2 separate regions of the Homo sapiens genome follow, and region 1 is linked to region 2. The links come from fine-mapping of genetic effects on gene expression. Tissue or cell type: blood mononuclear cells. Region 2 holds a variant in brackets; the other region holds the start of a gene. All regions are shown on one strand. Distances are from middle to middle.

Region 1 (2,610 bases), 60 kb before region 2:
CTCCTGCTAAAGCCATTCATTTCTCTGGGGTCTAGAGAATGGCCTTGTGGCTAGAAACAGCTGCAACGCATGCCTGTGGCCAGCAGGTCCCAAGCCCAGTACCATCTGTTATCACCCAGGATCACACCAGCCTTCCCCTTGCTGGGTACCGGCTGGCTGGTTCACACAAAAACCACCTCTGGGTTTGTTTTACAGAACTGCATTCCAAGTCAATTCTCCAAAAGATTTCTTCCACCCAAAGACCCCAACCTTACAATCTTCTTACCCTTGCTGGATGCTTCTGCCCTGTTCTAATGTGCCCGGCGGAGGCTGCTTGGCTGGGAGCTGGACCAACGCTGCGAATCCCACGGATTCTTCTAATTCAAGGGGGGAAATGCTATTTAGACCTGTGAAAGGAGAGTTCGAGCAAGCACCTTGACCGCTACGGAGAGTGGGCTCAGAGCTCTAGTCTAGCATCGTGCCTGGCCCCTGGTTAGGCCTCAGAAAATCTTGGGATGAATGGAGAGGGTTGTGGAACTAGGTGCTGGAGCGGGTTCAGTTCCTCTGCCAAAGAGAGACTTTGGGATTCCTGGGAACGGAATCGGGGAGAGGATGAAGAAGGGCGCCTCGCCTCTATCCTAAGCCCGATGGGAGGAACCTCTGCCGAGCCAGAGCCGGTCTTAACACCACCCTCCGGAGCTGCCACCACTGCCTCACTTCCATATGAGATATAGCGGGAAGGAGGGAGTGGCTGCCTGGCTCGCTTTGATTAGCTTTATAACAAGCGGTCGTTCTGAAATACTCGCTCATGATGGCTAACAGACAACACAATCGCCAAATGTCTTAAGAAAAGGAGCTTTGAGGGTAACCGCCCGCTGGGACCTGAAGGACAATTGCGGATTGTCCTTCAGCCGCATTCTTGGGGCTGACCTGAGTGGGGCACAGCTGAACGTCTGAGCGCAGGCGGCTGGTCCTTGGGCCCGGTACTGGCGGTTCGCGAGGCGGGTTTGGGGAGGGGTGGGGGAATCCTAGGGAGGCGGAGCGCGTACTCCCCCTCGGCGCCCGGGCTCAGGCCCATCCCGCCTCTGCGGCCTCGCCGGCCCCCAGGCCTTGCAGGGGACTACGCCCCTGGCGAGTTCCCAGTCGGCGCGGCCCCTGGTCGGCGGAGCCGCGGAAGCTTGGGCACTGGGGGCGGCTCGGGGAGGAACCGCGGAGGGGAAAGCGCCGCGGGCTGCAAACGGCAGAGGCGCGCGGGGTGGCGACAGTGGCGCGGGCGCAGTGAGCGCGTCCGAGAACAGAATGGGACGAAACGGGGCGCTTAGAGGCCCGGGAATCTGTGGGTCTTTTAGGCGGAGAGGGGCGAAGGAGGTTATTCGTTTTGGGGAAGGTCATGGAAACAGCAAAGGCTCAGAGGTGGTGCCTAAAGTGGCTGGAGAAGCTGAACGGTTTGGAACAGAGGCGTGACTTGGAGGGGTAAATGGAGACCAGATTAGGAAGCCTTGGGAGGCACAATCAGGGGTTAAAATCTTGAACAATTCAGAGTTGTTTTATTTTTAAAAATATATAGAAAATGAAATCTACACTTACGTAATAGATAACTTATGAAAAAGTACATGGAATACACATGTTGCAGTCTTGCCAATGTACCTTAATGTAGCAGTTTCTCCTTGTCTGGACTGATACCCGGGATTCTTTGTCCTACTCCAAGAAAATTAAGGAACGGGACATAAGGTGAGGTGGGAGCGAAAGTTTAATAAGCGAAAGAAGAAAGCTCTCCACAGTGAGCTGAGTATGCAAGTGGATTGCCCTGTTACAGCTGAATTCAAAAGCTTTTGCAAGAAAATCTCTTATCTCTGTAGTAGTTTGAGTAACTTCTCTTATCAGTAAAGCTGTCTTACGCAGCTGTGGTTATGTATCTATGCAAGCACAAAGCACCGCCTTTTTTGTTTGCATAACTGTGGGTTTGTTTTAGGTAAGCCCCCCTCCTCCCTGTGAAAGTTCCCACCATGTATATGCCTGAAAAGGGGAGAAAACTTTCCTGGGAGCTCCCTAATTATACAAAGAACAAAAGGCTTCTGTGCTGGACCCTGTCTGCTTATCTGTGTGCAGGTGGAGCCTGAGTTTTTTACCAGGTTGTTTTATTTTTGCCTGTTGCTGTGACTTTTCAGGCAGGCCGCTTCTGCATTGAGTCTTCCCCAACTGATTTTCTCTTTCCTTCTCTCTCGCACACAGTTAGGAAACATAATGTAATTACTACCCATGACAAAACCATCCTACGTAAGAAATGGAACATTCCTAGTACAGATGCTCCCCACCTATGGATTCCTTCCTTATCCCTTCTCCCTCTGCACGCCCAACGTCTATCCTGACCTTTGTGTCTGTCATACCCTCACTTTTTAAAATAGTTTTTTAAATCGCTTCTTTGTATCCCTAATACATCACTTTGTTTTGCTTCTCTGAAACTTTATAAAAATGGTGCTATGGTCTGGGTGTTTGTGACTCCATAAAATTCATGTGCTAGAATTCTAACCCCCAAAGTGATGGTATCAGGAGATGGGCCCTTTGGTCATGAGTGGGATTCATAAGAGCCCTTATAAAGGAGGTCCTGCAGAGCTACCTAGCCACTTCCAC
Region 2 (2,759 bases):
AAAGAAAGGTGAGAGGTGACAGCGTGCTGGCAGTCCTCACAGCCCTCGCTCGCTCTCGGCGCCTCCTCTGCCTGGGCTCCCACTTTGGTGGCACTTGAGGAGCCCTTCAGCCCACCGCTGCACTGTGGGAGCCCCTTTCTGGGCTGGCCAAGGCCGGAGCCCACTCCCTCAGCTTGCAGGGAAGTGTGGAGGGAGAGGCACGAGCGGGAACCGGGGCTGCGTGCGGCACTTGCTGGCCAGCTGGAGTTCCGGGTGGGCGTGGGCTTGGCGGGCCCCGCACTCGGAGCAGCCAGCCGGCCCTGTCGGCCCCGAGCAATGAGGGACTTAGCACCCGGGCCAGCGGCTGCAGAGGGTGTACTGGGTCCCCCAGCAGTGCCAGCCCACTGGCGCTGCACTCGATTTCTCGCTGGGCCTTAGCTGCCTTCCCAGGGGGCAGGCCTCGGGACTGCAGCCTGCCATGCCTGAGCCTTCCCCCACCTCCGTGGGCCCCAGTGCACCCCGAGCCTCCCCGACGAGCGCTGCCCCCTGCTCCACAGCACCCAGTCCCATCAATCACCCAAGGGCTGAGGAGTGTGGGCGCACGCGCGGGACTGGCAGGCAGTTCCACCTGCAGCCCCGGTGCAGGATCCACTGGGTGAAGCCAGCTGGGCTCCTGAGTCTGGTGGGGACGTGGAGAACCTTTATGTCTAGCTCAGGGATTGTAAACACACCAATCAGCACCCTGTGTCTAGCTTAGGGTTTGTGAGTGCACGAATCATCACTCTGTATCTAGCTGCTCTGTTGGGGCCTTGAAGAACCTTTATTTCTAGCTCAGGGATTGTAAATACACCAATCGGCACTCTGTATCTAGCGCAAGGTTTGTAAACACACCAATCAGCGCCCTGTGTTTAGCTCAAGGTTTGTGAATGCACCAATCGACACTCTGTATCTAGCTGCTCTGGTGGGGCCTTGGAGAACCTTTGTGTCCATACTCTGTATCTAACTAATCTGATGGGGATGTGGAGAACCTTTATATGTAGCTCAGGGATTGTAAACGCACCAATCAGCACCCTGTCAAAACAGACCACTCTGCTCTACCAATCAGCAGGATGGGGGCGGGAGGGGCGGGAGGGGCGGGGGCCAGACAAGAGAATAAAAGGAGGCTGCCCGAGCCAGGAGTGGCAACCTGCTCGGGTCCCCTTCCACATTGTGGAAGCTTTGTTCTTTTACTCTTTGCAATAACTCTTGCTACTGCGCGCTTTTTGGGTCCACACTGCTTTTATGAGCTGTAACACTCACCGCGAAGATCTGCAGTTTCTCTCTTGAAGCCAGCAA[G/A]ACCACCAGCCCACCAGGAGGAAGGAACAACTTCAGACGTGCTGCCTTAAGAGCTGTAACACTCACCGCGAAGGTCTGCAGTTTCACTCCTGAGCCAGCGAGACCACGAACCCACCAGAAGGAAGAAACTCCGAACACATCCTAACATCAAAAGGAACAAACTCCAGACGCGCCACCTTAAGAGCTGTAATGCTCACCGCGAGGGTCCGCGGCTTCATTCTTGAAGTCAGTGAGACCAAGAACCCAGCAATTCCGGACACAAAGGGATGTTAAACACAGCTTCTCCTGCCATCTCTGTTTTGGAAAGCGTGCTCAAATTGACCACAACAGCTGTTCTGTTTACACACTCCGAAGTCAAAATCACTAGCCGCATTCTCAGGCTACATGATCTCCATAGTTCCCGGGAGGTGGGCAGTTTTAATACTGTGTGGACGGAAACTAGATTCAGAGTCTAAGCCACTGACCCAAGGTCACACAGCCACTAAGCAAAAGCTCTGGATTCCCTTCCAGTCAATTTGACCTAAAAGTCAGTTTTCTGGGCCAGGCCACTGGAATGTTCTCTGATGAGACTTGCATGGGCAGTCTCACTCGCAGCCTTGCTTGATGTCCCAGGACAGCTCCTGTCTGCCCACTGCAGATTTCGCAGGCTCAGGCCTTGGAGCAGCATCACTCAGTGCAAGCTTGAAGCTGTGGGCAGAAAGGTCAGGAGCTGCTCAGCCCCCCATTCTCTCACTTCCTGTGAAGAAATTGGTGGGACCAAAGATGGCGGATGCACCCCGGAAGCATCCTCCAGGGGGAGACCTGTGCTTCCCTGGGGCGGTGGAGGGAGTAAGTGTTCAGGGCAGCCACTTGTCAGGGTGAGAGCTATGCTGAGAGCACCTGGAGAATCTTCCTGGCTAGCAGACAGCCACCTTCTCACTAGATCCTCACGTGGTGGAGAGAGTGCCAGCTCTGGTCTCTTCCTTTTCTTTTTTTCTTTTTTTTTTTTTTTTTTCTGAAACAGGGTCTCATTCTGCCGCCCAGGCTGGAGTACAATGGCATGATCTTGGCTCACTGCAACCTCTGCCTCCCGGGTTCAAGCAATTCTCGTGCCTCAGCCTCCCGAGTAGCTGAGATTACAGGCACCTGCCTCCACGCCTGGCTAATTTTTGTATTTTTAGTAGAGATGGGGTTTCACCACGTTGGCCAGGCTGGTCTCGAACTCCTGACCTCAGGTGATCCTCCCACCTTGGCCTCCCAAAGTGCTGGGATTACAGGCATGAGCCACTGTGCCCGGTCTAGTCTCTTCCTTTTCATATAAGAACACTAAATCCATCCTAGAGGCTCTACCCTCACAACCTAATTACCTCCCAGTGACCCCACCTCCAATACCATCCCACAGGTGGGTTAGAGTTCAACATATGAATTTGGAGTGTGAGAGAAACACAAGCATTCAGTCCATAGCA

What was found. PIP is the estimated chance that this variant, and not a neighbour inherited with it, causes the effect.
Region 1: PLAAT5 starts here. The variant in region 2 is fine-mapped to the expression of PLAAT5 in blood mononuclear cells (TOPMed, PIP above 0.99).

Annotation. Positions count from the first base shown.
Region 1 is chr11:63,489,978-63,492,587 of GRCh38, forward strand. It overlaps PLAAT5 (phospholipase A and acyltransferase 5), which reads right to left and starts at 1,190. Exons shown (of 6, transcript NM_001146729.2): 1 at 910-1,190; 2 at 266-356. The coding sequence starts at 1,057.
Region 2 is chr11:63,550,014-63,552,772 of GRCh38, forward strand. It overlaps PLAAT2 (phospholipase A and acyltransferase 2), which reads right to left. Exons shown (of 4, transcript NM_017878.2): 4 at 2,757-2,759. Among named protein-coding and RNA genes, the nearest start is that of PLAAT2, 12 kb to the right of the region's middle. The variant G/A (reference allele first, on the strand shown) is at 1,315.